Linked DNA regions of Homo sapiens. The protein of the gene in region 3 interacts with the protein of the main gene of each other region in a biochemical or structural test. Each region holds a gene or a part of one and is shown on either strand. Other genes may lie near its edges. The genes, in order: TWIST2, MED13 and SREBF1.

Region 1 (7,109 bases), on a different chromosome or scaffold from region 3:
ACACGTGGCTAATTTTTGTATTTTTAGTAGAGATGGAGTTTCACTATGTTGGTCAGGCTGGTCTCGAACTCCTGGCCTCAGGTAATCCACCCACCTTGGCCTCCCAAAATGCTGGGATGACAGGCATGAGCCACTGCGCCCAGCCTCAATGTAATATTTTATTGCCGTTCAAAGAGCTCTGCTATTCAAGCAGAAGGATGCTTTACGAGACAGACAAGATGGTCGTTTGGCTTCTTTCAGCAAAGACAGGGCTGGTCCTGCTTCCTCTGCAAACCGCAGCAGTGGCCTGGCCTGATCGTCTCTTGGAAGCTGTCTTTAGATGAGCCAAGGCTTTCAAAGTGATATCTGACTGCAGGTTTAGATCTATCGCTATTAAATCCAGGGGGAGGAAATCAATGCTGAGTTACCACTTCCTTTCCTTAACCTTGGCAAATGCTGAGCCGTGCTGGGCTCATGCTCAGACATTCATCAGCACGAGCTGATAGGTGACTTGGGCCTTAGCGAAGATGGGCTCCAAGGCCCGTCCAGCCTCAGGGACCAGGGAAGTGCCAGGGTGGTGGGACAGCTACTTGCAAACAGCCAGCAGCGTCCTTCCTCTTGCTCCCCTCTTCCTCTCTCATGGGAGGGCCCGCCCGTCATGCAGGGGCACCATGCCCATGGTGCCCCTCCCCTGAACAGTCTCAGGCCAACCCAAGCTCCCTCCAGTGGTCCTTGACCCCAGGCACAGCAGATGGCCCCCTGACCACCTTCCTCTGGGGGCCTCTGCTTTCTCTGGCATCTGAATCACCTGCGATTGTCACAGGCCCCTCAGAGACACGGCCCCCTCTGGGGCTTCTTGGACACACTTTGCTGGGCAGTGTTGATGCCTGGGACCAAACAGGAAGGGAAGGCACCTGAGGTCCTCTTCAAGTGACTGTGTCTGCAGCGGCCTCCCTCGTGGCACTATTGCAGCAGTGTGGAGGGGCCCTGCTGGATTTTCACAGTGTTGTTTTTCTGAGAACGGCAGGAAGGGTGCTTTTTCTGAGAAACTGCTGTCTTCTATGTCTCTGAGGGACACTGAGGAAGAGGTGCCGGGTCTCCCATGGCCAGCAGCAGAGAGAGGCACACGGCCCCAACACAATCCTGAAGATAAATACAGAATGGGACCTATTCTTAAGAGACCTGAGTCCCTTCCGTAGCCCTGATCCCTTGTGAAATTCTTCATATATCACTTGACCTATTCACATCCTAACCTTCTCTTTTATTTTGTCCTTCATAAAAAAAAAACTTTTCCATGTTATAAATTATAAATGATAGACTAATGTACACAGGGTTGCTGGGGACGCACATGGAAATTACATTGTTCCACACTGAAATTACATGATATTATTCACTTGTGAACTGTAGTAAAACAAGAAAGGAGATGACATACAGCAACACTGAAACGAGCAGAGAGGTGAGTAACCGTGCTCATCTTTTGCCTGTTGTTTAATTAGAAGGAAATCTCTATTCTCAGAAAAAAATAGTCTGAAAGAAAGTTTTGGAATTAGCAATAATTTAACACCCAGTAAAATGCCCTTCAATTAATTCTACCCTTCCAATGCTGCCAGCTCGCATGGGCCACCTGGACCCTGCCTATTAACACCTTCGCAGTCACACAAGACGGGACCTCAAGATAAGCTCTCTCCTGACCCTACCTCGGGGGCCATAAAACGCCAGTCCTGGATGCACCCCCTCTGCCACAGCCACCGCACGGCCCCCAGGGAGTTTGGGGATCGTGGAAACAGGTCCTTCTGCACCAGAGAAATCAACAAAAACAGGGCACCCTGGGATTCTTAGGGTACAGATATCTGTTTGGAGCACTCCTGTTCTGGTATCAGTGAAACAATACTTTTAGAAAATAGTAACATGAGCCCACGAAGGAGAGGGAGTCGCCAAGCACACACTGAGGCGGGGGTGCTGAGCACACATCTATGGGCCGCACGAGGCTTCGGGAGCCCCTAGATGACCTTTGCTCAGAGGGTCCTCGGCCATTCTGTATTTACAGTCTGTATTTCCACGTGTGACTGAGCTATCACGGGACCTGATGGTGGGCTTCTCGTTCTTCCTCTATTACTTTTTTATAAAGTGAAACCTCAAGCGGACTTCAGTTAATCATGTTTTTAAAAGATGCTGTTTCAACTAAAGAATATAGAAGAGTATATGCAGGTTTGGGGGAAGCGGTAGGAAACACTTGCTGGAGAAGAAATGTTCACCAGACAGAAAACAAGGAATGCGAAATGATCACATCTTTCTCTCCTAGCTTCCCATCTACGCATGCAGATTATCATGAACGAGAGGAAAGCCAGGCGGCTGGGCATATGTTGAAGATGTTGACTAGTTAGAAACCAGTATATATGTAGTATGCAATTTGGGATTATTTGATTTCAGGAAAATTAATCCTCAATGAAGACACTGTTCGCCCATTGGTGTCAATGATGTGAACAGAGACGTGTAGATGCCCGATTTGAGAAAGAGGAGTATGCCTTCTCCTCCTTCCTTTCCCTTCCCTTCCAATTTGCGGTATTTTAGGCATTTCCCAAAGAAATGATAACTGCCTTATTCTGTTATGTATCAAGACAAAACAGTCTCCCTGAGACTGAGATTTAAAGTTCACACAAACTTTCCGGAAGGGACCCAGTCGGTATAGGTTTTGCCAACCCTGCAGGCTAGCTAGCTTGCGCTGCGCCTGTGCACTCTTCCGCCGAGCTAAAAGTCTGAGTTGTGGAAGTAAAGGACAAGTCGCAGGTCCAGGGAGTCCACGCAGGCAGCCAGCTTGCCACTCCGAGCCCTCTGAGCACCGGCCACACGAACCACTCAAAGAGCAGAGATGAAGGAAAGGAAACGGTACTTGTAGATCTCGTGATTCAAAGAAAACGCTGCCTGCTTGCATTTTCACATACAGAATATGCTAATTCAAAGTAGAACAGACAAAGAAAGCTGCCGTGGCAGCAGAGCCCGAGATTGTACATGACTGGCCTGTGCTTTCCTTTAGGAGGTTGTTCATGCTCCAAGCTGTCCCTCATGGAGCCCCTGCCTCGGAAGCGGGCCAAAATCTCTCCACCCTTCAGCAGGGGCATCTACTTACAGAGATTTAACAGAAATGCTAGGGTGGCATTTTGTCTGGATAGCGACAGAAAAACAGTAGTAACGACGAAAGTTTCAACATTTTTTTCTCCACGGGGAAGAGAGCAAAAGGATCTCTAACCCTCCCCTCTCACAGCAAAAGGCCAAAAAGTTGCCCTAACCCCTCCTGGGGGGAGCTGCTCTGCCTGGTGCTCCGGAAAGACTCTGCCTGTGACCACACCACAGACCTCAGCCACAGGGTGGGGTCTGATGTTTAGTCAAGGTCGAAGGGTTAATACAAATCAAGGGGTTTGCCCAAATCTTTCCCGTCAGTCGCACACCAGACCTGCACATCCAGAGACACAGAGGTGAACCGTCTGTCAAATTAGACAGTGAGAATTAGGACTCTAATGCCAGACCACATAACAAAATTTACCATTTCCTCCCAGAAGATACTGATGGCTATTTTTTTAAGGCAGAATGTGAACTAAAAAGACAGGAGTATTTTCCAGGATAATCGAATGTGATAACCGAAAGCTCTTCTGAGTTCAACCCTGTCTTTCATTTCAGTGAAGGGAAAATCTGAACTAAAGAAAGGAGAGATGTGTCCAAGTTTAAAGGCACTGCTCTTCGGGTCTGAGAAGTAAAACTATAGTTCTCCATGAGGCTTCGACAGAAGCTGGGTCATCTGAATCTTTCCCTGGTCAAATAACAGAGGAAAACAATATTAGGATAGAAAACCGCTCAGTGAGGGACAGCCCCGGTAGACAAGCAGACACTGCACTCAGCTCACGCAGCCGCGCTCTCTCATCTTCATCACCACAGGATCATCATATTATCACACCACAGTTGAGGATGAAATAGCCCAGATATCTGAAGCACGTCAGATACCGTTTGGGTTCAAAATGACTCTATTTTTAACTAAGCACTAAAACATTTTCCTCATGCTGGAATCAAGTTATGTGTTGGCTTTTCCAATTTCAGATCCAAGTCTCTTTTCGAAGTGACAACCATTAATAATCGCTGAAGAGAAATCACACTGTGCCTCAGTTTACAAGAGCTTAAAATTCACCTTGTTAATGCTACCGCCCTCATTTCCAAATCAGCATTCAGGTAAGGCATAGTTTAATATCACTCAATCTCATCCAAAGGGTTACTACCAAACAAAAACAGAAAATATGTTTCTAAACAATTATTCATTAAAAATAACTATAACTGGGCTTAGGGTTTGAGTTTCTCTCTCTCTCTCTCTCTCTCTCTCTCTCTCCATCTCTCCCTCTCTCCTTCTCTCTCTCCATCTCTCCCTCTCTCCCTCTCTCTCTCTCTCTCTCTCCCTCCCTCCTCTGCTATATCCTCTCCCTCTCACTGCTTATGGCTCCAAATACTAAAACTTCAATCTCTATACTTCTTGGCGAATAATTTTTATAAATCATTGGCTTTAGAATTGTGTGTGTATGCTTAATGAAAGTTAATATAAAATTAGTATCTTAAAAAGCAAATATAACACAGGTATCAGTTTAAGGTAGATATTTCCCAAAATTTTGTGTAAAATATTTTCTTTATTAGTATAGGAATAAATGTATTGCTATTATAATTGGTATTTCACCTTTCATATTTCTGGGATACTATTCTTTATTTAAGACTTACAGGGAACCACTTCTAATTAGTTATATATTGGAAATATATTGAGATTCCTCAAATGGCGTCAGAAAAAATATGTGGAGTTTTGCTCAAGTCACATTTTTAGTTTATTACTCTGAGATAAATCTTAGTAGTAATTTCTTAGATAATTTGCTTATCTAAATATATAGATTTAATACTTTTGTAGAATATCTTTTTTATTTTAATTTTGAGATAATTATAGATTCACATGAGGTTGCAAGAAATATTATACAGAGATTCTCATATCTTCACTCCCTTCTCCCAGTGATGACATCTTGCAATTATCATAATCAGGAAACTGGCGTCAATATCGTCCCCAGACCTCATTCAGATTTCACCAGTTTTACATACACTCGTGTGTACATGTGTGTGCACGTGCATGTGCGTGTGTGTGTGTGTGTTTAGTGCTATGCAATTTTATCACGTGTAGACTCAGGTGACCATGTGGAATATCTTTTTAATCAGTTTCTGTTTGTAGTGTTTCATCTTGCCTTTACGTTTGAAAGCATCCATGTCTGTATCTCTTAGATTCTGTTTCTCCTTTATGGTTTTCCAGTCCTTGGCTACAGTAACTTATTCATCTCTTCTTTGAATTTTATTGCCTCATTTGTGAACTCTCTGCTAGCGGAGAGTTCTGTATTTGGTTTGCTTTTTGCAGCACATTTATCCTTTCCCAGGAAAAGACACAAACATAAACAGACATTCCAGCATGCATTCACAGGGTTTTTAAAGACACCAGTGAGAATAGATTAATATAAATACTAAGCTTAAAAACCGTCATAAAAGTTCAGCCTTTAAAATTGGCTTATTAAAATATTTGTTTTTTTTAAAGCCCAGATTTAAACTAAAGTTATGAGTTATAGTGCTCTGCTCAGAAAGAGTTTACTTTATGTGTGTGGTGTTTTTTTTTCTTTTTTTAAATTTTTTTGCCAGGCAAAAGGAATCCGGCATCTGTGCCGTCTACCCAGAACAGAGTGAAGCAAGGATGACAAGAACATGGTTCAGCTCAAGATCTGTATGAAAATATGAGTTTCAGGAAACCTCAGTGAAGTATTCTATCTCAAATGGCCTCAAAGAGCCACTGAAGTCTGAGGAATTCCCTCTCCAGCAAGATGAGTAGCAAGACTTCCCTGATGCAAGGCCGAAAGGACTGCTGATATTTAAGGGGAAAGACCCACATTAACAGGTCAAATCCCTACATCAGATCTTATTGATGGGTATTTTGTAACCAAACATTGCTTATATTCCAGGGAGCTCAGCCTTTCATTCTACTTCTTCTAGGCAAGCAAAAGCTCCATTGGGATTCTGCATTTCTGTTCTTCTCCACGAAGAACTGATTTTCTAGCATCCTGAATACAGCAGTTAACAAACACCTATGAGAAGTAAATTTTCAGGAGGGAGGAAAAGGCTCACATATATTAGATGGTGAAGGGGTCATGCAATTTCTTCAAAGTAGCTAAAAGTTCTCAGAAAAAAAAAAGTTTGTTGAGTGAGGAAATCTACTGAAAATCTGTGCACACTATGCAGAAGTTAGAGAAGATGTTTTCTTTAACCACACAGCAGGGAACAGGACAAATGTCTGATAAGTAATGGTCACCTTCCCCCACCCTCCAAGCCAGGTGTCTGGGACCCTGCTCCGAAGACTCAGGCATTTAATGAGAATACTAAAAAAATCCTTTTGAGATTTTTCTATTAGATGAATCCAACTGACTGGACAAAGACACCTGATTTATTGTCTAATTGTGCTTTTAAATACCAGGCCAAAGAAGAAAGGCAGGATAGATATCGGCAGCACCCGCACTCCACCATCTCTTGCGTTTCTCTTCCTTTCAGAGGACAATTTAGGCTTTGTGCTGCTGTTGCTGTTAGTCTTGACAGTTTTCTTCACATACGTGAAAACATCCCACATCAAACATTAAAATCACTTACAATGTACTGAAATGTCTAGAGATTCTTTGCTGATGCATATAATTAATGCTTCTTAGAAATGCTACAAATAAAAACAAATGCTGTTTAGCAACATTTTCAGGAAATCAAACCAATTATAATCGTATTGATCTTATAGGGAATAATGAGTTAAAGACAAAAAGAATGACAAGATGTCTGCCTAACGTGCCTGATAAATAAAAACAAGGTGTGTCCAGAATCATTCATGGATAAAATTTTTCCATATTTCTTTTCTCTTCTTTTAGAGTATCTATTTAATGAAACTAGCTTGTTTGAACTACTCAGTTATAGTCCAGTATGTAAAAATAAAAATAAATAGGCTCCTTATAGATCATCAGCTCTCCCACTAACTGTGTAATTATCTATTATATTTTCAAGGGCTTTTTTCCAAACAAGCTCTTGGCACTGTTTTTATT
Region 2 (7,109 bases), about 44 Mb from region 3:
GATCGCGCCATTGTACTCCAGCCTAGGCAACAAAAGCGAAACTCCATCTCAAAAAAAAAAAAAAAAAAGTAGATATTTATTTATTTATTTCTGTACCTTAACTGATTTTGGAGATCATTTCTATCTGCACATATAGAGATTATCTTTTTTTATGGCTATATGTATTCCATTGTTCCTTACATATGATAATATATTTTACCAGTGCAGTGTTTATGAACATACAAATTGTTACCACCATTATCATTACAGCTACTTTTCAGTAATGCACAGATCCCTGGCTTTAAAGCATGGGTGTATTTTTATTTTATTTATTATTATTATTTTTGAGATTTGTTCTGTCACCCTGGCTGGAGTACAGTGGCACAATCATGGCTCACTGCAGCCATAACCTCCTGGGTCCAAGTGATCCTCTCACCTCAGCCTGCCAAGTAGCTGGTACTACAGGTGCTCACCACCACACCCAGCTAATTTTTGTATATTTTGTAGAGATGAGGTTTTGCCATGTTGCCCAGGCTGGTCTCCAACTCCTGGGCCCTAGTGATCTGCCCAACTCACCCTCCCAAAGGGCTAGGATTATAAGCACCCAGACGTGTATTTCAAGAAAAAAAAAAAAAAAACCTAAATAACTATCTGTAATGCCTTTTTTTTTTTTTTTTTTTTTTTTGAGACAGTCTCACTCTCTTGCCCAGACTGGAGTGCAGTGGCATGATCTTAGCTCACTGCACCCTCTGCCTCCCAGGTTCAAGCAGTTCTCATGCATCAGCCTCACGAGTAGCTGGGATTACAGGCATGCATTAACCACACCTGGCTAATTTTTGTATTTTTACTAGAGATGGGATTTTGCCATCTTGCCCAGTCTGTTCTTGAACTGCTTGCCTCAAGTGATCCACCTACCTAGGCCTCCCAAAGTGCTGAGATTACAGGCGTGAGCCACCATGCCCAGCCCCTGTAATATCAGTTTGAATTCCCACCAGTTAAAGTGCCTGTTTTCCCAAAGCCTTGCCTAGTAGGATGCTGATTCAGTGGATGAAAAATGGTTATTTCCCATTATAGTTTGAGAGATTAAATAGTACAGACTGTGGGGATAGATTTCTTGGGTTTAAATTCCTACTCTGCTACTTCTTGTGAAATGCTAGAGAAATTGCTTAACTTCCTCATTTATGTTTTCTCATCTCTAAAATGAAGTTAATAATAGTTTCTGCCTTATGTTTTTTGTGAGGATTAAATGAGTTAGTACATGCAAAGAGCTTTGAACAGTACCTAGCACATAGAATTATCATTGTTTGCTATTATTAATTTTAAATTGCTTTTTTAATGAGAAAGAGCATCTTTTTATGTGTTAGAGATAGTTTTGTTTTGTAATCTCCATGTTCTTAACCCATTTTTCTATTAGGTTGTTGGTCATTTTCTTTTAAAAATTTTTTTATTATGGTAAGAACACTCACCAGGCATGACGACTCACGCCTGTAATCCCAGCACTTTGGGAGGCCGAGGTGGGCAGATCACTTGAGGTCAGGAGTTTGAAACCAGCCTGGCCAACATGGTGAAACCCCATCTCTACCAAAAATTCAAAAATTATCCCGGTATGGTGATGTGTGCCTATAATCCCAGCTACTCAGGAGGCTGAGGTGAGATAATTGCTTGAACCCAGGAGGTGGAGGTTGGAGTGAGTGGAGATCGCACCACTGCACTGCAGCCTAGGCAACAGAGCAAGACTGTCTCAAAAACAAAACAAAAAAAAACTAAAAGAAAGAACACTTAACATGAGATCTGCGCTCTTAGTAAGGTTTTTTCTTTTTTCTATTTTTTAAATTATATTATTTTTAAATGTATAAATAAGGATGGTGTCTCACTATGTTGCCTAGGCCTCAAACTCCTGGGCTCAAGTAATCCTCCCACCTCAGTCTCCCAAGGTGCTGAGATTACAGGCATGAGCCACAGCACCTGGCCTACAGTGTATTTTTATGCCAATTTTTTGTTTGTTTGTTTTTGAGATGGAGTTTTGCTCTTTTTGCCTGGGCTGACGTGCACTGGTGCAATCTCAGCTCACCGCAACCTCCACCCCCTGGGTTCAAGCAATTCTGCTTCAGCCTCCTGAGTAGCTGGGATTACAGGCATGCACCACCATGCCCGGCTAATTTTGTATTTTTAATAGAGACAGGCTTTCTCCATGTTGGTCAGGCTGGTCTTAAACTCCCAGCCTCAGGTGATCTGCCCACCTCGGCCTCCCAAAGTGCTGAAATTACAGGTGTGAGCCACTGCACCCAGCCCCATGCCAAAAATTTAAATGCAGACCAGACGTGGTGGCTCCTGCACGTAATCCCAGCACTTTGGGAGGCTGAGGAAGGAGGATCACTTGAGCTCAGGAGTTTGAGTCCACCCTGGGCAACACAGCAAGATCCCATCTCTACAAAAACTTTAAAAATTAGCTAAGCATAGTGGCACACACCTGTAGTCCCAGCTATTCGGGAAGCTGAGGACAGAGGATTGCTTGAGCCCAGCAGGTTAATGCTGCAGTAAGGCGTGATTGTTCCACTGCAGTCTAATCTGGGCAATAGAGCAAGACCCTGTCTCAAAAAAATAAGTAAATAAAAAGACTTGTTTAGGAAATTCCTTAATGTTGAAAAGTCTTGACCACTGGCATTAAGTATTTTTGTCTCTAATAAAATATTTTCACTAATAATGACTTCATTAACTTTTGACATTTAAATAAAAAGGAGGCCGGGCATGGTGGCTCACACCTGTAATCCCAGCACTTTGGGAGGCCGAGGTGGGCGGACACAAGGTCAGGAGCTCGAGACCATCCTGGCTAACACGGTGAAACCTCGTCTCTACTAAAAAATACAAAAAATTAGCCAGGCGTGGTGGCAGGCACTTGCAGTCCCAGCTACTCAGGAGGCTGAGGCAGGAAAATGGCGTGAACGCGGGAGGCGGAGCTTGCAGTGAGCCGAGATGGCGCCACTGCACTCCAGTCTGGGCGACAGAGCGAGACTCTGTCTCAAAAAATAAATAAATAAATAAATAAATAAAAAGGAGACATGTCTTGTTTTTAAGTGTTTTCTTAAAATACATCTTTCTTATTTAGGAACTGATGAATCCCCAGAACCACTGCCAATCCCCACATTTTTGTTGGGTTATGATTATGATTATCTGGTGCTTTCTCCATTTGCTCTTCCTTATTGGGAGAGACTTATGCTGGAACCCTATGGATCTCAAAGAGATATAGCCTATGTTGTACTGTGTCCAGAAAATGAAGCCTTGTTAAATGGAGCAAAAAGCTTTTTTAGAGATCTTACTGCAATATATGAGGTAGGTGTTTAAAAAGAGATGACATTTTAAAACTACCTTACGATTTGTATTGTTGTATATACAGCATACTGGGCAGTTCAGTTGATTGGGACACAGTGATGATGTCAGATTAGATGTTTATTTCTCATACTAGCCAGTTACATTCTTTGCTGAGTTTGACCCAGTCTGTTAGATGTGTATGCCGTGGGTCAGAGTGGCTATCCCCCTATAGGAGGAAGAAACATTGAGGGCATATAGATATATATCCCTTTTAATGTGGCTTTTTCTAAAACAAAGGGTAACAATGTTAAATAGCCAGGAAAAAAGTTACATTTACAAAAATTCTAGTCTTTATTCTCTAGGATTTCAGGTAGTGACACTAGGCCTCACTTTCCTCATATGTAAAATAAATCTATGCTAGATATCACTAAGGTCCATTTCAGGTCTGAAATTCTTGCCTCTTCTTTTAAGTTATAATTCTCACATATCCATCACCAGGCGCAATAATTGTAAATTATAAGTGTTATGGGACATAAAGTCTTACTTTATTATTCCCTCCTTTTTCCACAAAGGCTTCGAAATTTAGTCTTTAAATTTTGATTCCTTATACAATCTGAATGTTAGTGTATGTTAGTTTAGCTTCCTTTTAAAATTTTCCACATAATTACAAGGTATTTGTAGTGTGTTTTTAATAAATAAACATTTCCCAAAGGGTGTTATTTGGAATATCAGTCCGGTAAAATCCTCTCAGAGAAAAAGTTCCATAGTTAAATAGGCTTGGGGAAACATTGTATATTATATTACCTTTTAGAGATTTACAATTCATATTAGGTTTTTAAAGGCTTTGAAATTCTTACAGTAAAGAACTCTTCTAAGTTTGCTTAATCCAATGTTTTAAATTTATTTAACATTGGGCTTCTAATAACAAAAATCAGTGACTCACAGAACTAGAGGGAGAAGGTGTATAAATATATTTGTATAACAATTTTTATTTTGCTTTGATTTAGGGATATTTGTATTCATAATTCATGAATTGGTGTTAATGTATACCTAAAATGACTGCATTTTTATGCTCACTTATGTCTGCATTCTGCAAGCTTTTATTCAAACAAAATGGTTCTAGTACTATTGTTATCTAGGTGTTTTTTCATTAGAGATATTTTAATTTTGAAAAAAAATTAATGAATTTCTAATGTAAAAATGAAAAAGACCTATGGCACCATTTCACCCTTGATATGTTTATTTTTTTGGCCTACTTCTAAAAACACCCTTGATATTTTTATCATAACTGTTAATTGCAAATGGTTAAGCTTATTTTAAGTAGCTTTCATGGTTGGTTTTATAATGTGTATCTAAATACAATAATAAATTTACTAATTCTGCTTTCTGTATGTATATTTGTAGTCCTGTCGATTAGGTCAACATAGACCTGTTTCTCGACTGTTAACAGATGGGATCATGAGAGTTGGATCTACTGCATCAAAGAAACTATCAGAAAAGTTGGTAGCAGAATGGTTTTCTCAGGCAGCTGACGGTAACAATGAAGCATTTTCTAAACTCAAGCTTTATGCACAAGTCTGCAGATATGACCTAGGTATTGAATTTGTATTTATTGTATAAGGCTGGTGTTAGCAAAATGTGGCCTGCTCCACCAGCTGTTTTTGTAGATAAAATTTTATTGGAACACAGCCATCCTCATTTATGTATTTTCTCTGGCTGCTTTTGTGCTACAACATTGGAGCTGAGTAGTTTTCATAGAGACTGTGTGGCTGCAAAGACAAAAATATTTATTATCTGACCCTTTACAGAACAAGTTTGCTGATCCCTAATGAGGGATCCCATCAGGTAGGAAGAAATTATGGGTTATAAATAAATTTTCTGTTGCCTCTGTAGGGTCTGATGTTTTAATAACTTGAAGATTCTTCATTTGTTACAGTTTAGAGATAAAATAATTTATAGTTAATCTCTACCAAACCAAGAAATAGTTCTTTGTTGTAGCTAAGAAAACGACAGCTGTTTAAGACTTGCTTGTTACATACTTTTTTTCTTTCATTCTACCCGTGCCTAACTGTATTGCTTATAAATACTCTTGAAAATAAAGATCAGTGGACTTCCTTTAGACTTAATCCAAAGAGATGCAGAACCAAAATATTGAATCTCATTAGACATTCCTATAATTTGAACCCCATAACATTATACCATTTTATATTTTAATTAGCTGTCAATGTAGTCAATATTTATTTGATTTGTGATTTAGAAACCCTTTGAATAGTTTGATGAATATTGCTAGATACCTTTTTTACATTTAATTATACTTAGAAAATAGAATTTTGTTACACTTTCATAGTAATCATTTCTTTAATTTTGAGTGAAAATTCTGGCTTTTTCAATTCCATTTTAAATATGTTTCTTCAGTCTCTAGGGGAAAATAGAAAGCAAGTGTAGGTCACACCATTAGCAAGCAATTTCGGGGCTATAATTACCAAGAAAACATCAACTGGATTATGATTCTGTTTACACAGTAGAATTTAAAAAAACCAGTCAGTGAAATAAAGAATTAAATTTCGTACCTGTTTTTATTCTTTAGGTCCTTATCTTGCTTCCCTGCCATTGGACAGCTCTCTACTTTCCCAGCCAAATTTAGTTGCCCCTACAAGTCAGTCTTTGATTACTCCACCTCAGATGACAAATACTGGAAATGCTAATACTCCATCTGCCACCTTAGCATCTGCAGCGAGCAGCACTATGACAGTGACTTCAGGTGTTGCCATATCTACTTCAGTTGCCACAGCTAATTCAACTTTGACCACAGCTTCAACTTCATCTTCATCATCCTCCAACTTGAATAGTGGAGTATCATCAAATAAACTACCTTCGTTTCCACCCTTTGGCAGTATGAACAGTAATGCTGCAGGATCCATGTCTACACAAGCAAATACAGTTCAGAGTGGTCAGCTAGGAGGGCAACAGACATCAGCTCTACAGACAGCTGGGATTTCTGGAGAATCATCTTCACTTCCCACTCAGCCGCATCCTGATGTGTCTGAAAGGTACCTTTAAAAATACTGATTTTTGCAGAAATATAAAAACTATGATGCTGCTTCTTTCTTTTTTTTTCTTGAGACACAGTCTCACTCTTTTGCGCAGGCTGTACTGCAGTGGTGGGATCTGCACTCACTGCAACCTCTGCCTCCCGAGTTCAAGTGATTCTCCTCCCTCAGCCTCCCTAGTAGCTGGAATTACAGGCATGTGCCACCACGCCTGGCTAATTTTTGTATTTTTAGTAGAGACAGGGTTTTGCCATGTTGACCAGGCTGGTCTCAAACTTCTGACCTCAGGTGATCCACCCACCATGGCTTCCCAAAGTGCTGGGATTACAGACGTGAGCCACCACGCCCAGCCATGCTGCTTTTTTTCTAAATAAGACGTTTTGAATGAGCATAAAGTGCTTTTTTATCTTAGTCTTGAAATTTTAGTTTGTATCTTTTTTTAAGACAAGGTCTCACTCTGTCACCCAGGCTGGAGTATAGTGGCGTGATCACGGCTCACTGCAGCCTCGACCTCCTGGGCTCAGGTGATCCTCCCACCTCAGCCTCCTGAGTAGCTGGGACTTACAGGCATGCACCACCATGCCCAGCTACTTTTTTGTAGAGATGTGGTTTCACCCTGTTGCCCTGGCTGGTCTGGAACTCTTGGACTCAGCAATCTGCCTGCCTCAGCCTCCCAAAGTGCTGGGATTACAGGCATGAGCTATCGCACCCGGCCTAGTGTTGAATATTTTATGTATAAAATTATAATGAGGACTTTACTTCATAAAGTAT
Region 3 (7,109 bases):
CAGGCCTCCAGTGCGAGGTTGCGCCTACCCCGGCAACAAGCACACCAGGACTGCTAGTAACAGGGCATCTCAAGCAGCCGAGTGGAGCCCCAGTTTCTAAAGCCTGCACAGACCTCTACTCACATCACAGCAGAAGCTTCTTCCTGTGCTCCTGGAAGCCCCACCCCGGGTGTCCCCTCCCGCCACACATCCCCCTTACCTGTAGAGAAGCCTCCCGGAGGGCTGGGGTAGCCTAACACAGGGGTGGAGCTGAACTGCGGTGGGGCTGGGGCTGGGAAGCTCTGTGGCAGGAGGGCCCCTGGCAGGGGCTGTGGGGTGGGGGTCTGCAGGATGCTCAGTGGCACTGACTCTTCCTTGATACCAGGCCCAGGGGAGAAAGCGGGCATGGACGGGTACATCTTCAATGGAGTGGGTGCAGGCTGGGGAGGGGACAGGGGTGAGGGCGCTGCCTGCGGCCCGCTCAGGAAGGCTTCAAGAGAGGAGCTCAATGTGGCAGGAGGTGGAGACAAGCTGCCTGGGGAGCTGGTATCGGGGCTGGCAGGGTCTGTGCCCCCTGCCCCACTCCCAGCATAGGGTGGGTCAAATAGGCCAGGGAAGTCACTGTCTTGGTTGTTGATAAGCTGAAGCATGTCTGTGAAAAGGAGAAGAGGGTGCGTGAGTGAGGCAGAGACTGACCCCCAAACAGGGCATCACACACATCCAAACACAACCTTATTTGCACAACCCTTGTTGGCACACAGCTGTATGTGTGGGCAATGCCACCAGGACAGAAAGCCACCCACAGGAGCTGGTGTTCCCGGACATACAGCCATTTTGCGAGCACCTGTGCTGTCTAAAGCAATGCCTGCTGCTGCGAGTGCATCACAATACCTGGACAAGGTGGGCACCACAAGGCTCACAATCTTGCCCCACAGCTAGGCTGGGGCTGAGCCCAGGGTCGGGCCCAAGACTGCAGACTTCAGAGCCTGAGCTCTTCCCACCATCCGGTATTTGCCCAAACATCTAGAAACATCCTTAGTCCACAGCAAACAGCAGGCTCACATTCATTCACTCATCCAGTGAGCATGTGCTGAGTGCTGAGTGCCCACACTATGCCAGGCACTGCTCCCGGCTGTGAATAAGGGAAATCCCTGCCTAGAACTAAGCAACTTTCTGGGGAGCTGGGAGTGTCCTGTAGCTTGATGTGGATGGTGGTAAACTTTTACTCCTGTCTTCATGGGGCATGCATTCTACAAGACATCCACCTCTGAGTCCACACACATACACACACACACACACACACACATACACACTGCACCGTGGACTCAGACCAGCTTCCAAGCATTTGCCCATGAGGTGACCAACCCTTCCAGACAGCTCTCCTGCCCTCTCCACAGTCCATCACCCCCAACCCCACACAGAACAAAAGGAATCCAGAGGCCCAGGTGCAGCCTTCCCTGGCTCCACTTGGGGCCTGTTTCTCAATGTGTGAAACGGGGGGCACGCCTCCATCCACAGATCCAGCAGCTCCAGTCTTTGGGATGGAGATGGGGATGGGGAGGGAGGAGCAGTCTAGGGCAGAGGGGGTCTTCATATAGGAGCGATGGGCCCCACACCCCACCATTGGCCACTCCTGGTCTCATCCTAAAACGCACCCCCAGCAGGATCCTCTGGGCACTGAATTTGACAAAGCAACTTAGAAACTGCTGAGGAGTGGGTGATTTTCCCCTCCCCTCAGTTTACAGGGGGAAGAGGGGTGCAGAGAGAGGCAGGATTGCCTTGAGGCCCTGAAGAAGTGGTGGGATCCTCTGTGACCAAGGACCAACTGTGCAGCCTGGGCCCACTCTTCCTAGGGCAGCGCAGGATCCCCAAAGAGAATGGCAGACAGGGAAGTCCCCCAAGAGGACCCCAGATCAGAGCAGGGTCCTCATCCACACTAGAAGGACTCTAAGGGTGGGGGCCCATGTCAGAAGGGTGGGTCTGGTCCAAAAGCCAGGCCCGCTGTGGGGCTACCCACATTGATGGGGCCAGGCTAGACCCCTAATCCTCACCCACAGCTGAGAGGGTGATGTGATCATTGGCCCCATTCTACACGTGAAGAAACTGAGCTGTAGAGAGGTGACTTACTGGCCTAAGTTCTTATAGAGTCAGAGACTCAACTGAGTCCAGACCCTATTTTGACTCCAATGCCCCAACCACTGGCCACTACCCTAGACTACCTCAAAAGATTAGCTCACCTCATCTTGGAGACAAGAAAAGACACTGAGGCTCAGGGAGGACCACAAGCAGCCCAAGAGCATGCAGTGGGGTTCAAACCCAGGTCTACAAAATCCCAAATCTATTGTCTCTCTGCCTTTTCTTGCCCCACTAAGAAGCCAAGAGCCAGGCTGCCATCACCAACCCATTACTCAGTGGAACAGACCAAGGCTTAGGGCCAAGCCAGCTGCTGGCCACATGGCCAACCAGTGTGTCTCTGTGTAGAGTTCTGGGCTCAAGTCCAGGCTTTGCCTGCAGCCAAGTAGCCTCAAGACCCAGGCCTGGCCACTCAGGGCTTTGATTTCATCTCTGTAAAAGCAAGTGCTGTCTGTCCTGACTCCTTCCTCCTCATACAGACTGGGACACACTCCCACCTCAGCCCCACCTGGCCAAGGGCCCTCTCCCCCAGCTGGTGACTAGCAGCCTATCTGGCTCAGCCCAGGGCCCTCTAACCCACTCGTGGTGGCACCCACTGGGTCAGAATGCTCTACAGGACCCATGGGGGCCTCCAGTGCTCTCAGGATCCCCAGCCTGAGCTCCCAGCCCTGCCCACCACCAGCTTGAAGTGGAGCCTGGACCAACAGCCTCCTCTCACTGGCCCCAGTTTCCTCATCTGTACAACAGAAAAGACTAAACCCCTTTTGGTACGGCTGCCCGAGGCTTTGCTTGGCAGGCAGCTGGCACCGAGTGGAGACCCAACATTGCCTACTGACAGGTACCCAGGCAGGGAAGCTACTGCAGGAGGGGAATTTCCTAGAGCAGTTGGCAGAACAGGATGGGGTGGCAGCCCCAGTCTTCCTGGCTTCTCAAGTAGAAACTCTCCTGGTTTGTGGACCCCCCAGGTCACAAGTCATCAAGTCATAATGGACTTTCAACTGCAGGGTTTCCCATCCCTTTACCCCAGTCCGTGTGAGCCTCTTCGATAGATGGGGGAAACTGAGGCCTGAAAGAAAAACTGACAATTTTGACAATCTAGGGCTCCCACTGTCTTCCTGAAAAGTCTAAGATGCCCACAATAGGCAGGGGTGCTGAATAGGGCAGACGCTGTGGCAGAGGGACAACGGGCCCTCCTCCCTGCTTCCTCCTGGTCCTGTCCCAAAGCGGGTGCAGAGAATGTAGAGAAGACCACCCTCTCCCTCCAAACCCTCTTAGGTCGGGATGCTGCTTTTGGGTCTCTAAGCAAACCCTTCCCCCTTGAGTTGCAGGGGACACTAATTTGGTTGGAGGTAGCCCTCCACTTCCCCAGCGAGCTGGTAACTGTCACACCTTCTCCCTCGGGAAGGGGCTCTTTCCTGCTCAAGTTGCGTAGCCCGCATGCCCGCCCACCCCAGGAGAACCTGCAGGAGACGGAGGCATTGTATAAAGGGCTGGTGGGGAGGCCTCCAAAAATACCTTCGAAAGTGCAATCCATGGCTCCGCGATCTGCGCCCGCCCTTGGGGCGTCCAGGCCGTTGGCCCTACCCCTCCCCGCGCCGACTTCACCTGTCAAGGCGCGGCGGATTTTTGAAGCCGTTGAGCGCTGCGGCGCGCCCGCCCCGCCCCGCCCCGCCCCCAGCCCCGCCCCAGCCCCGCCCCGCCTGCAGGTCCCGCCCCGCCCCGCCCTTCGGGGCTGCGGGCCGGGCATGGGGTGAGCGCGCGCGGCCAATCAGCGGCCGCGCTGCCGCCTCGCTAGGGCCCGGCCCCGGCCCCCGCCCCACCTCCCCACGGCGGCGGGGGCTCGAGTTTCACCCCGCGGCGCTGAATGGGGTTGGGGTTACTAGCGGACGTCCGCCTTTAACCCGCTCGGTGCCAGCGTCTGCCGGGGTTACTGGCGGTCACTGGCCCTCAGCTCCCGCCCCCTTCGTTAAAGGGTCAAAGCAGAGAAGTCCTGGCCCAACACACCAGAACTCTGTGTTCGAAATCACTGGTTCGCTGGCACCCTGAGCGAGCCTTAACCGCTCCAACCCTCCGTTTACTCCTCCAGAAAACAGGACAGTCATTATCTCCCTGGCGTCGAATGGTAGAAGGGAGATAATATGGGTGCAGCACTTAGTACGCAAGAAGCGTTTAATTAAGGCCAAGGGCTGCCGAGTGGCAGCTGCGGTGGGTGCAGGGACCTCCCCCTTCTAGGGCAGCCCCAGGAAGGGGCCACCCCTCACCACAGCGGGGCTGATGGTCTGGGATGAGGCCACTCCTGAAAACAGGTCACTTCCGGGAAACTGAGGCCTGGAAATAAGGGTTTCCTGACTGCCAGCACCGATGTCCCTCTGCCAGATGGGTGAAGTCTGCCCCTCCCCCTCAAGGCCTCACAACCCAGCAGTCACCAAGTGAGTCCCGACCCACTATTCATTGTAGGGCCCTGGGAAGCCAGGAAGGGCTGCAGTCCCTAGGACAGAAGATGGGTAAGGAAGGGGTGACAGGCTCTAGGGTTCTTTTGAGGAGGTGCCTGGGCCTGTCTTCCCTCTTTTGTCAAAGGTAAAAGTTACACACACACACACACACAAAGTGATCAGAGCCTGGCCAGTTGATTTTGCAGCCAAGTAGACCACCAGCAAAGCCTGCCTCTGCCCCAAACTGCAGGCCAGCGCCTCTGCCTGGTCCACACCCCAGTTGGCTGCAACCTGAGAGGGTGCCTGAACCCTGGGCAGACCCAGCGACTCAGCAGTCCATTGGGGGCTGGGGTCCCTGCGGCCTCAACCTTGCTCTCTATTCAGGACCCTAAGCAAGAAAACCCAGCCATGTCTCTCTCGCAACCTGTCCTCGCCACCGCCGTCCAGCCCAGGCCCTTATTTCCCAGCTTTGGGAGGTTCAAGGACAACAGACGGCCTCTCTAGCATGGCCCAACCCTCCCCTCAGCCCGCGGGTGTTCCCTCACCCCCAAAACAAAACACAGCATTGCTCTTGGCAAAGGCTCTGACATGAGTGACTTAAGACAGGGAAGCGTCCTTGACCCAAAAGCACACTGAGAGCTGAACTCCAGGCATGAGTTCCCCATGGCCTCCCAGCCTGGTTCTTTCATTACTTTGCTCCCCAGTTTCTGAGCCTAGAATGTGGTGAGACCAACAAGCAGATACTAGCCTGAGACAGCAGGGCCAGGGCCACTGTGAACAGTCAAGCCTGTCCCCTCCCCTTACCCATCTTGGCTTTACCACATATTCCTGCCTCTTATTGTGTCTTTATTTGTCTCATCTTCCTGCTCTAACCCCCTCCCATCCCACTGAGGAAGCGCGATGGGAGAGGGCGGTTGCTCTCTGAGCCCCAGGGGCAGCAGAGTCATTAAAGACTCTGATGGGGGTGGGGCGGGGGGGGCCTTCCAAGAGGAGGGGGTGTGACCTGGGAACAGAGGGCTGGCCCTTGGGCAGAGGGCACAGACTAAGCTAAGATGCCCCGAGGAAGGGGGAAGGGCCTGGGTGCCACTGGCCATGGCCAGCCTCTGAAACTCAAGGCCTGGCCAAACCCTGGCTCACTCTCCCCTGGGGCTGATCTACTGGCCAATTTCTTTTTTTTTTTTTTTTTTTTTTGAGACAGAGTCTGGCTCTGTCACCCAGGCTGGAGTGCAGTGACACGATCTCAGCTCACTGCAACCTCTACCTCCCGGGTTCAAGTGACTCTCCTGCCTCAGCCTCCTGAGTAGCTGGGATTACAGGTGTGCGCCACCACACCTGTAATGAAATGTAATTTTTGTATTTTTAGTAGAGACAGGGTTTCACCACGTTGGCCAGGCTGGTCTCGAACTCCTGACCTCAGGTGATCCTCCCACCTCGGCCTCCCAATGTGTTGCGATTACAGGCATGAGTCACCGTGCCAATTTCTGTGGAAGCTGGTCACCAGGTTAAGACTGAAAAAGGAAACTCTAGAGCCAGCCCTGCAGCCTCCCTCAGAGACACACCCAAGTGGGCTATCTGGGGCTGCATGCCAGGCCCTGCTCTTCCTTTAGCCCCTCCCTTGCTGTGTGATGGGGACAGTCCACTCCCCACCCTCTGAGCTCCCACACCTACGATCTCCAGAGGTGGGAATTCTGGGAAAGCAAGTGTGTAAAACATCCATCACTCAACAGTCTCAACAAAGGTTAGTTCTCTCTACAGCAATTAGAATGGTTTAGAACTGGAAAGTCAGGTAGTGAGTTGCCTGATACTTGCAGTATTCACGTTGGAGCTCCATTACCATTCGACTGAGTCTTTTTTTTTTTTTTTTTAAGGGGAGTTAACGGGGCCAGTCTAGAGTAAGGCAGCTGAGGCACCTTGGGTGCACAATTTAAGGAAGAGCCTCTCTTGCCTCCCCTAGTCCCTGTCCTGGAAGCTGGGAGAGCTGGTCTCTAGGGGCTCACTGTGGCACCCAAATTGCGGCCCACCCATGGGTGAACCGGGCTTCCCTATGAACACTGAGAAGGCCCTTGTGGTTCCCACACACACTCTGAACACAGGAAGGAAGAGGAGGCATAGACTCTGGGCCATGGTGGCCCCAACTGCTCCCTAGTTCACCTTCCCCAGGCTTGTGAAGCCCTGCCACCCCTCCCCAAGCCTGGGTTCCTCCTCTTCCCTCTTCTTCTTCCTCTCCTGCCCTGATTCTATCAGGACCCAACAGGAAACCTGAACCCCCACCTGGCATCCCTCCCCAGTTCTACCTTCAAACCTCTCTCTGAAGGCAGATGCAGGCGCCCTTTAATGACTCTGGCCGATGTATTCTGTGAGGCCATGAGGGAAATCCTGGGCAGGCCTCATGGCATGCGCTTGTAGGGCCCAACGCTGACCAGCACAGAAGCCTACAACCCAAACAAGGCCTTGAACCCCAAACAACCTCCTGGAAGAGGGAGCTCTTCACCTGCCCCCACAGCCTTGTCCACAGAACCCAGATCCATCTCTGACAATATCTACTGTGTGCCAATCCTGTGCCAG

What was found.
Region 1: the proteins of SREBF1 (region 3) and TWIST2 form a complex in vitro, tested with the Homo sapiens proteins (one study listed by BioGRID).
Region 2: the proteins of SREBF1 (region 3) and MED13 form a complex in vitro, tested with the Homo sapiens proteins (one study listed by BioGRID).

The regions. Positions count from the first base shown.
Region 1 is NC_000002.12:238,850,691-238,857,799, reverse strand, and holds part of TWIST2 (twist-related protein 2), read right to left. Parts: intron 6,737-7,109; exon of another isoform or gene 1-6,736. UniProt on the Homo sapiens protein: Binds to the E-box consensus sequence 5'-CANNTG-3' as a heterodimer and inhibits transcriptional activation by MYOD1, MYOG, MEF2A and MEF2C. Also represses expression of pro-inflammatory cytokines such as TNFA and IL1B.
Region 2 is NC_000017.11:61,964,235-61,971,343, reverse strand, and holds part of MED13 (mediator of RNA polymerase II transcription subunit 13), read left to right. Parts: intron 1-3,085; coding exon 3,086-3,309; intron 3,310-4,692; coding exon 4,693-4,882; intron 4,883-5,875; coding exon 5,876-6,338; intron 6,339-7,109. UniProt on the Homo sapiens protein: Component of the Mediator complex, a coactivator involved in the regulated transcription of nearly all RNA polymerase II-dependent genes.
Region 3 is NC_000017.11:17,819,891-17,826,999, forward strand, and holds part of SREBF1 (sterol regulatory element-binding protein 1), read right to left. Parts: intron 3,741-7,109; exon of another isoform or gene 3,718-3,740; coding exon of another isoform or gene 3,628-3,717; intron 632-3,627; coding exon 200-631; intron 1-199.